Homo sapiens: one gene and its partners. The protein of the gene in region 1 interacts with the protein of each later gene in a pairwise test. Each region holds a gene or a part of one and is shown in the gene's direction. Other genes may lie near its edges. The genes, in order: UBXN6, SVIP and PLEKHB2.

Region 1 (3,652 bases):
GAGGAGTAAACCAAGCGAGCCGACCAGCTCCCAGCAGGGTCCTGGCACACAGTAGGTGCTCAGCAAACGAAGCTGTGACCTGAGGGTGGAGAGTCTTATGGCAGGGAGGGAGGGAGGATGTGACACCCCTTGAGTCTCCTCAATTCCTGAGGATGCGGGCTGGGTGCTGTGGCTCATGCCTATAATCCCAGCAGTTTGGGAGGCCACGGTGGGAGGATCATTTGAGGCAAAAGTTCGAGACCAGCCTGAGCTACATAGCGAGACCCTGTCTCGATAGAAAAATTAGCCAGGCATGATGATGCTTGCCTCTAAGTCCCAGCGACTTGGGAGGCTGAGGCGGGAGGATTCCTTGAGCCTGGGAGCTCAGGATTGCAGTAAGCCATGATCGTGCCACTATACTCCAGCCTTGGTGAGAGAGCAAGACCCTGTCTCAAAAAGAAAAAAAGCACTGAGGATGTCAAGGTGCCTTCACCTCAGGAGGGGTGCTGTCACCCCATTTTACAGATGAGGACGCTGAGGGCCAGTGGGGGCAGGACTTGCCCGATGGTGCAGAGCTGAGTGGAACCAGCATCTCCTTCCTCCAGGGGCTCTTCCGCCTGCAGTAGAACCATCTGGTGGCTGCAGGTGGCCCCTGGGAACCAGGTGTCCTGGCCCACATAGGCAGGGACACGTCTGGCTGATGGTGCTGGGGAGGGGCAGAAGCTCCTCTGTGTGACTGCACGTCAGCTTTGCCGGCCACCTCGGGAGGATACACTCACTCTCCCTCGGTCTGTTCCCAGGGAAAAGGCCCACAAAGAGAAGCCCAACCAGCCAGCCCCCAGGCCGCCCCGCCAGGGACCCACCAATGAGGCACAGATGGCAGCCGCTGCCGCCCTAGCCCGGCTGGAGCAGAAGCAGTCCCGGGCCTGGGGCCCCACATCGCAGGACACCATCCGAAACCAGGGTGAGATATGGCCCTCCTCGGGCCCAGGTTGGGGCTGTTTGAGGTTCTCGGCCCTGGTGCCTGGCCCTGGATGCAGAAGTCACATGAGCAACCGTGGGGGTGTGAGGGTCACCCTTGGGAGCGGCTCATCAAGGGCAGGTGCTGGGGGAAGGGCAGCTTCCTGGGGAGGGGGTGGGAGCAGAGACTTGGAGCAGAAACGGGCTGCCCAGGCAGTGGGGTGCTTGCTCAGGCTGAGGGGTGGCTGCACAGCAAGTCCTGCAGGGGACCTCCAGCCTGACCTCCAGCAGAAGCAGGCTGGGGCGGTGTGCGTGGCCCCCAGGCCCACCCCGGGAATGAGGGGGCTTGGGCCAGGACAGCGGCGTGCTCACTATCCCGTCTCTGCCTCTCTTTCTTGGGCTGCCTTCCAGTGAGAAAGGAACTTCAAGCCGAAGCCACCGTCAGCGGGAGCCCCGAGGCCCCAGGGACCAACGTGGTAAGAACAGCCACTGGTGGCACTGTCCCATGCCAAGGGGTGGGGACAGCTTGACTGTGTCACGGGGGAGATGTGGCCTCTGCCCTTGGGGCTCAAGGGCTGTTGGAAAACCTTGCCTTGCAAGGTGGACACAGGTTGTGGTGGAACACGGTGTTGTCTGGGACCTTCGGGGCTCGGCAGCTGAGGATGCCGGCTCAGGCCTGGAGAAGTGGGCCTCAGGTACACGAGCCCATCGCTCCCTCCCCTTAACCCCTTAAGGGCAGATGCAGTTACAGTTTCCACTATTCAAAAAGAGAACCGGGGTTGAGAGAGGTGAAACCAGCTGTCCTCTCTCCTACACCCCAGGACCAGCAAAGGCAGGACCAGAGCCAGTCTGTGGTTTCAGAGCCTGTCCCCTAGCACTGCCCAGTCCTGCCTGCCTTGGAGGTCAAGAGGCTCTGTGGAGACGGGTGGAATCAGGGAGGCCTTCCTCTAGGAGGTGGGCCTTCAGAGCTCCGCTGAAAGGAGTTCTAAGCAGCTTGACCCTCGAGGATTCAGTGAATTTTAGCACGCAGGGACCTTAGAGATGGCCTAGAAATGGAGGCCCAGAAGTCATGCCTTGTCCAGCGCACTGTGCCCGCAGACACCCACACAGAGCTCCTTCCTCAACAGCTTGGGGACAGGACCAGCAGGAACCCAGCTGCCATCTGCTGGGTGTTTCCTGCGTGTCAGAAGCTGCTCCGTACTTTCCGTTCCTTACCTCGTTTAGTTCTGAGCAGGCCCCACAGGGACATTTGACATACCAGGGAAAAGACTCGGGGATCCGGTCACTTGGCCAGGGTGTCTCCCACGGCCACCAGGTGGAAGGGACAGCATGGGGGCTGGAGATGTCTGGTTCTACGGGCCACACTCAGGACTGTGGTGCTCGGCGAGGGTCGGGGTGGCCTCTGTCCACGGTCCAGACTTGGACGCTTTCACCGCCCCAGGTATCTGAGCCCAGAGAGGAAGGCTCTGCCCACCTGGCTGTGCCTGGCGTGTACTTCACCTGTCCGCTCACTGGGGCCACCCTGAGGAAGGACCAGCGGGACGCCTGCATCAAGGAGGCCATTCTCTTGGTGAGTGGCACCCTGTGTGCTCCTGCCCCAACCTGTAGCTTCCTGTGCCTGAGCCACCCTCCATCGGAAGCCCAGGTGGTACAGATCCCTCCCAGAGTCCCCAGAGGCCACTGCTAGTAGTGAAGCCCCTCCTCTGATACCCCAAATCCAGGCACACCATTGTGTATGCATCTGTATCTCCTCTCTCCCAACTAGGTGTCTTTTTTTTTTTTTTTGAGATGGAGTCTCACTCTGACACCCAGGCTGGAGTGCAGTGGCGCATTCTCGGCTCACTACAACCTCCGCCTCCTGGATTCAAACGATTCTCGTGCCTCAGCCTCTCAAGTAGCTGGGATTACAGGCACCTGCCACCATGCCTGGCTAATTTTTGTATTTTTAGTAGAGATGGGGTTTCACCATGTTGGCCAGGCTGGTCTCGAACTTTTGCCTCAAGTGATCAACCCGCCTCAGCCTCCCAAAGTGCTAGGATTACAGACGTGAGCCACCACGCGTGGCCTGGTTGTTTTTCATAAAAGGTTAAGTATTATTTGCTTCAATACAGAAAGAACTTCCTACAAAATTAGCCAGGCATGGTGGCACATGCCTGTAATCCCAGCTACTCGGGAGGCTGAGGCAAGAGAATTGCTTGAATCCAGGAGGCAGAGGTTGTGGTGAGCCGAGATAGCGCCATTGCACTCCAACCTGGGCAACAAGAGCAAAACTCCATCTCAAAAAATAAAAACGTCCACAGCATTTTTTTCCAATACAGCAAGTCCTCACTTAACACCATCAATAGGTTCTCAGAAACTTCGGCTTTAGCCTGGGCAACATGGCAAAACCCTGTCTCTGCCAAAAACAAAAAAAAATAGCTGGGCATGGTGGCGTGCACCTGCAGTCCCTGCTACTCAGAAGGCTGAGGTGGGAGGATTGCTTCAGCCTGGGAGGTAGAGGCTGCAGTGAGCTGTAATCATGCCACTGCACACCAGCCTGGGTGACAAGTGAGACCCTTTCTCAGAAAATAGTAAGTGGCTGGGCGCGGTGGCTCTTGCCTGTAATTCCAGTGCTTTGGGAGGCTGAGGCAGGTGGATCACCTGAGGTCAGAAGTTCCAAGACCAGCCTGGTCAACATAGTGAAACCCCCTATCTACTAAATATACAAAAATTA
Region 2 (3,652 bases), on another chromosome or scaffold:
AAATTCAAGCAATATGGAGAAGTATAAAGAAGTGTAAAAGTCATCCAAACTAAGTACCATTTTGACAGACATAATTTCTAACCTTCATTTATATATCTTATTAAATTGGATTACGCTATAAGTTCTGTTTTATGGCCTGAGCTCTTTTACGCATTGATTTGGAATCTTTGATCTTTCCATTGCCCCTGTTTATTATAGTTATGTAAATGTTAATTTGGATTACAGAATGTATACAGGTGTGGGTATCATACACATACCTCCCTAGATATGGATCCCAGAGCTAGACACTGGGAATATAATGGTGGACAAGTTAAGCAGAGTCTCTGAATGCTGGAGTCTTTACACTCTAGCAGGACTTTAAAGGATTTATTTTTAAAATCCCTTAAAGCTCAGGAAAATAATGGCTCAGATATTAAGAATTTATTCTTGGTCCATTTTTAAAGTAAATAGTAGTATATTTGTGAAAAGGACAATGTCTTTAATTTCAGTCATTTATATTTAACTTGTCAATGATTTATGAGTACCTTTCAACAGATTTATTGGTTTTTTTTCTCTCAAAACTACACACACACACACATGCACATACATATACATGGACATATACACATACACTTGCCTACATGTAGATACTCTCGTAACTTGTGGGGCAGGCAGTTTATGAACACCCTGAGCAGTTGATTCTGGCTCAAGAATATCACAGAAATAAGAATGTGTGTCTGTGTATTTTACTATTGTACGTTACTTCATCTTATATCATTTAACGAATGAAAATTTATGAAGTTTTTTTATGGTGAACTTTTAGCAATATATAATTAGTTTCAATATAAGGTAAATAAGTCTGACCATTTTGCTTATGTTTTTTATAATTCCATAATAGAACAGAATAGGTCTAGTGTAAAGTAAAACAGTTGGGTGATAACGAGGTCAATTCTTTATCATATCTCAATATTCTGTTGAGATAAAGTGCTGTTTCACTAGGTTTACTTCATATAGGGTTGTCAAAAACAAACACAAAATTACAAAAGTTAAATTGTAGGACTGGAAATAATGAGATCCACTATTTCACAGTAGAAGTGGTGAAGGTATTAAGTTAAAGTCATACGTAATGTTATAGGAAAAGGATAATTTAATCAACACTTAATCATAATTAAGAAGACACTTCACAAGTTCTAACCTAATGAAATTAACATCAGCTTTTAAAGTATAATAAAGAAAGAGGCTTTCTTAAACTTGAAGCTTCCACACTCTGAAGTCTATAGATTAAAAAAAAAATTTAGGCCTTATATTACTTACAATCCATTCAAAAGTGCTCAAAATGTAAAACATACCCAAAGTTAAATTTAGTTTCTGTTTTTCTTTGTGTACTGTTCTTGTAAGAAATCTCTCAAACTCACTTAGTAAAAATGACCTTCAGGACCTTGAAACTATATAGTGGCAGGAGGATTTTCTCCAGTGGCTCACTGTCATTAGCCACTGCTGTTGTCCACTGTGAGTAATTTTTCCTTGGAATATTCCTCATCACCTACCACTACCACACTAGCTTCAAGTGGCATGCTCCATTCTGCTTGACACATGCACAACATGTCAAGAGCATGAAGTGAAAAAATTCTGGAAGGCTCAGGGATAACAGAAGGGAAAAATACAAGGCAGAAGTACTTAACCCTCAAAACGCTTGGCCTATGGTCCTTTAATGGCTGCTGTCTGGCTTGTTTCATGGGCTGGCCTGAAGTATTGGTAGAGTCTTCCTAAGGTAGGAAGGTTAGGAAGACTCTTCCCTAGGTAGAGTCTTTCTGACCTGACTCTACCTAGAGTATGAGTCTAGTTTGCATTCCCTGTCTTCATGCCTTTCACCTATTCATCTCCTGACCAGTGCTGCATCTTTCCAGGGTAATTAGCATGGGTAATGCTGTCTTCTGACTTCTTACCTGAAGAAGTCAATGTGATGATGGCATCAGGATGCAAAGTACTATCAGTACAGGATATAGCAGCACGGGAGTAAGGGTAGACCTCTAGTACAATGGCTTTCCACCTTAGCTGCATGTTGGAGTTTCATAGGCAGCTTTCAAAAAGGATTGTTCATTGGGCTCCACCTCACACCAGTCAGTCTCTGAGAGTAGGGTTTAGCCATCAGGACTGTTTTAAGCTTCCCAAGGTAATCTAATGTGAACCCAGATTGAGAATCACTATCCTAGCGTTTATAACACTTGTCCTAAGAGAGATGTTTTGGAAGATAGAGTCCCATGGGAATAAATGTTTAAAAATGCTAAATTGTATATTGTAGACTATATCCCCTTCTTAGAGACTAAAAAAGGCACAGAATTATGGCCTCTAAGAAATTGTACAATGAAGAAAAGCAAGTTTACTTGGATTAATCTTTAATGTTGAAAATTTATTTAAACATAGATTTTATATATATATGTGTGTATATATATACGTATATATATACATATATATATACGTATATATATGTGTATATATATATATATGTGTGTGTGTATATATATATATAAAACACCCAATAATATTCCTTGGATGTACTTGGAAAACACTATCAAGAGATTGCCAAATATCTCTGGTTCTATCCTAATGGCTCTTCAGGACCTATCACAGATTTAATAGACTTCATTAAACAAAGGGGCAAATGGAATATTTTCTTAACTCAAGAAGGAAAAGACCTTGCCAAACCATTTTTTAATGGTTTCTGCCATTTCTTGACTCCCTGGCTCAAACAAGAATTTTTAAATTTTTGTTTTGTTGTGTTTTATTTTGTGTTCCTTTACTGATTATTGGATATTTAGGCTCTTGCTACTGAATAGCAGGTTCACTGTGCAGTGGTTACCAACTTCAGAGTCCAGTGGACAGAATACTCATGCATGTAACATTTGCATGAAGAGGCTGAGCACAGTCACTCACACGTGTAATCTCAGCTGTGAGAGGAAGGCTTTGGGAGGCTGAGAAGATGGGATGATCACTTGAGGTCAGGAGTTAAGAGACCAGCCTGGGCAACATAGCGAGACCCTGTCTCTACAAAAATAAAAAATAAATTAGGTGTGGTGGCATGTGCCTGTGGTCCTAGCTTTTCGGGAGGCTGAGGTGGGAGAATGACTTGAGCCTGCGAGGTTAAGGCTGCAGTGAGCCATTCCCACCTCACCCCAGCCTGGGCGATAGAGTGAGACCCTGTCTCAAGAAAATCCCAAAACAAAACCAAAAACATTTAACGTGGAGTGAGTTTATTACTTACAGATTGGCAACAAGGGACAACAGAAGCCTAGGATTCATTATAAGCTTGTCTCCCAAGGAAAACTGCCTGGGGTTGATGACATCTGTGTGTGCCCCACTTGAACCTCAGATGAGTGCCCTGGGTTTTATGACCTGGGGGTTAGAAGGGGAGGTACTACATGACTCCTTGGGCTAAAGCATTGAAGGACGTCCTGTCTTTAGGGAGGGACTGGAACAGAACTTGAGCTGTCCTTGGCCATTCATTTGCTATCCCAGGATGTTACATTCCCAGCACATTCTACAGTTACTCTTGAAAACTACAGGCAAGACAGTGAGACAGAGCTATCCTGCAACTACCCACCAATCTGACCAGATATTTTGTCTTCTTTATGCTTTTAAACTATCATCTTATTTCAGGCTTTGGACTATAATG
Region 3 (3,652 bases), on another chromosome or scaffold:
GCTTTGCATAGGTTTTATTGGCATAAAAATAATGTTCTTTTGCAGCTAGTTTGCTGGTGTTTTATTCTCTAGAGACCAACAGCTAGGGCTTAGTGTTTATCTGATGAGTTTTAGTTTATGCATTCAGTTTTGCTCCAGGATATAAATAGTGAAATGTTGAATTAAGTTATGGAGTGGTGTGAAATTCAGCATGCTAAGGCAATCAAACAGAAGTCTTCTGAGCCATTTGAGAAGCAGCTTGATGTCCTTGTTCTTAGAACAGGGCTGTCCAATCTTTAGACTTTCTTGGGCCACATTGGAAGAAGGCCATACATAAAATACACTAACCCTAATGATAGCTGATGCACTAAAAAATAAAATTGCAAAAAAATCTCATAACGTTTTAAGAAAGTTTACAAATTTGTGTTGGGCTGCATTCAAAGCTGACCTGGGCTGGGGCCATGAGTTGGACAAGCTTGTTCTAGAATATTTTCGGCAAATTTTGGTAAGGGGGAAAATAAGTAATAGTAATAATAGTAGTAAATAGTAATAATTGCTGTCAAAGCAGCTACCATTTATCGAGTTCTAGTAACTGTGAGGCACCATGCCAACTACTTACATATTATTTCACCCAATTTTCCGAACATCCTGTCAAGTAGGTGGTGGGAATTTTCGTTTTATAGATCAGGCTTGGAAACGTGACTTGTCCGATTGAGTCAGGATCTGAACATAGGTCTTTTAACTCTAAAGCTTATACCCAAACACTGGGTTCTGTGAAATTTCAAAAGCATATGATAGGCTGACTGCAGTGGCTCATACCTGTAATCCCAGAACTTTGGGAGGCTGAGATGGAAGAATCCCTTGAGCCCAGGAGTTCGAGACCAGCTTGGGCAACATAGTGAAACCTCGTCTCTACAAAAACAAAACAAAATGTGATCAAAATCATACTTCATGATTTTTGGTTTCTAAAGATACTCTCTAAATTTCTCTCCCCAATTTAAAAACGAAAGCAGAGCACTGTTGGAAGGTTCAAATAGGTAGATTAATTTAGGTTGGTTTTTTTGTTTTGGTATAGTTGAAGATAATTCAGGTTATTGTTTACATGTTTACATTTATCAAAATAATACATGTACATAGATTGAAAGACCAAATAGGCTGAGCGTGGTGGCTCAAGCTTTTGGAGGCCAGCACTTTTGGAGGCTGAGGCGGGTGGATCCCCTGAGGTCAGGAGTTTGAGACCAGCCTGACCAACGTGGTAAAATCCCGTCTGTACTAAAAGTACAAAAATCAGCTGTGCGTGGTGGTGGGCGCCTGTAATCCCAGCTACTTGGGAGGCTGAGGCAGGAGAATCGCTTGAACCTGGAAGGCGATGGGTGCAGTGAGCCAAGATCGCGCCACTATACTCCAGCCTGGGCAACAAGAGCGAAACTCTGTCTCAAAACAAACAAACAAAAAAAACAACCAAATAGTGCTTTAAACCTTAGAATAAAAAAAAATATATCAATCTCTTGTCCACCCCCTTTTTAAACTATAGACAACTATTTTCACCTTTTTTTGGCACTTTTTAAAATAGTATTTTGGCTGGGTGTGGTGGCTCACACCTGTAATTCCAGCACTTTGGGATGCCAAGGCAAGTGGATCATGAGGTCAGGAGATCGAGACCATCCTGGCTGACACGGTGAAACCCTGTCTCTACTAAAAATACAAAAAAATTACCTGGGTGTGGTGGCGGTTGCCTGTAGTCCCAGCTATTCGGGAGGCTGAGGCAGGAGAATGGCATGAACCTGGGAGGTGGAGGTTGCAGAGAGCTGAGATCGCGCCACTGCCCTCCAGCCTGGGTGACAGAGTGAGACTCCGTCTCAAAAAAAAAAAATAGTATTTTATCTTTGTGGATATGGTAAAATTGCTATTGATTTACATGTAATCTTTTGACTTTTGATCATAGAAGACTTTTGCTGCCTTGTAAAACTCTTCAATCCACCAGTGAGTCAAAAACTTGTAGGAAATTTGTCAGTTACTTTTTTTCCTCCCCTGTAGTACTCGGTCCTGCTCCAGTCTGGACTGTTTTTTTTTTTTTTTTTCCTCCCCAGTCCTTCTGCACAGCTGCCTTTCTGGGAATTTCCTCCCCTGCCAGTTGAAGACCGAATCCTACTCTGTCGCCCAGGCTGGAGTGCAGTGACATGATCATTCATGGCTTACTGTGCTTCTACCTTCTGGGCTCAAGCGATCTTCCTACCTCAGTCTCCCGAGTAGGTGGGACTACAGGCGTGCACCACTATGTGCAGCTAACTTCTTATTTTTTTGTTGAGAATGTCTCACTGTGTTGCTGGGTTGGTCTCAAACTCCTGGGCTGAAGCGATTCTCCCACCTTGGCTTCCCAAAGTGTTGGGATTATGCTCAAGAGCCACCATGCCTGGCCTTGATTAATGATTTGACTGGGTGTGGAATTCTGGCTTGGAAATAATTTTCCGTTAGCATTTTGAAGGTATTGCTCTAGATGTCCTGTGTCTTGCTGATTGTTGATCCTTTATATATGCTTTTTTCTTTGGGAAGTTTTTAGGTTCTCTTCTTTGTCCTTGATGTTATGAAATTTCAGTCATCCTACCTATGGAGAATCTTTTAAAATTCATCATGCTGGACAGTCATTGGATCTTTTGAATCTAGAAATGTGTTATCCTGTTGCAGGAAATGGTTTTATAGTATTATTTCTCTGCTCTTTTCTCTGTGGTTTATTTATGAAATTCTCCTATAAGCAGAATTTTTTTTTTTGAGACGGAGTCTCGCTGTGATGCCCAGGCTGGAATGCAGTGGTGGGATCTCAGCTCACTGCAACCTCCGTCTCCCGGGTTCAAGTGATTCTCCTGCCTCAGCCTGCTCAGTAGCTGGGACTACAAGTGCGTGCCACCATGCCTGGCTAATTTTTGTATTTTTAGTAGAGATGGGGTTTCACCATACTGGCCAGGCTCGTCTTGAACTCCTGACCCCAAGTGATCTACCCACCTCAGCCTCCCAAAGTGCTGTGATTAACAGGTATGAGCCACTGTGCCCAGCCAGCAGAATATTTTATATTCCAGGCTCATCCTCTAATTTTTTTCCATCTCTTGGTCTTTTTTTTTTTTTTTTTTAGCTCTTCATTTCAGAGAGATTTCTTCCATCTTGATCTTTCCAACTCTTGTATTGAATTTTTAATTTTGGTTATTATTTTTAATTGAGAGCTCTGAATATTTCTTTTTATTCTTGTTTTTTTTTTTTTTGAGATGGAGTCTCACTCCAGTCACCCAGGCTGGAGTGCAGTGGCACTATCTCGGCTCACTGCAAGCTCCGCCTCCCGGGTTCACGCCATTCTCCTGCCTCAGCCTCCTGAGTAGCTGGGACTACAGGAGCCTGCCACCACGCCCAACTAATTTTTGTATTTTTAGTAGAGACGGGGTTTCACCATGTTGGCCAGGCTGGTCTCGAACTCCTGACCTCAAGTGATCTACTCTCCTCGGCCTCCTAAAGTGTTGGGATTATAGGCGTGAGCCACTGTGGCCAGCTGTAAAGTAATATTTTTAAAGTTTTCTTTTGTACCCAGCATTGTCTCTGATTCTTGAGGTTTTTTTCTTGAAAATTTTATTTTCTTTAATCTCTATCTTTTATGGTCTAGATTTTTCTCCAGTGTCTGATTGTGGTA

Evidence for each region.
Region 2: the proteins of UBXN6 (region 1) and SVIP interact in binary tests that used the Homo sapiens proteins (3 or more experiments, as listed by UniProt).
Region 3: the proteins of UBXN6 (region 1) and PLEKHB2 interact in binary tests that used the Homo sapiens proteins (3 or more experiments, as listed by UniProt).

Annotation. Positions count from the first base shown.
Region 1 is NC_000019.10:4,451,221-4,454,872, reverse strand, and holds part of UBXN6 (UBX domain-containing protein 6), read left to right. Parts: intron 1-779; coding exon 780-943; intron 944-1,350; coding exon 1,351-1,415; intron 1,416-2,380; coding exon 2,381-2,509; intron 2,510-3,652. UniProt on the Homo sapiens protein: May negatively regulate the ATPase activity of VCP, an ATP-driven segregase that associates with different cofactors to control a wide variety of cellular processes.
Region 2 is NC_000011.10:22,823,280-22,826,931, reverse strand, and holds part of SVIP (small VCP/p97-interacting protein), read left to right. Parts: intron 1-3,652. UniProt on the Homo sapiens protein: Negative regulator of the ER-associated degradation pathway (ERAD) of misfolded proteins. It competes with AMFR/gp78 for binding VCP/p97, and inhibits AMFR/gp78-VCP/p97 complex formation that is required for degradation of ERAD substrates.
Region 3 is NC_000002.12:131,108,275-131,111,926, forward strand, and holds part of PLEKHB2 (pleckstrin homology domain-containing family B member 2), read left to right. Parts: intron 1-3,652. UniProt on the Homo sapiens protein: Involved in retrograde transport of recycling endosomes.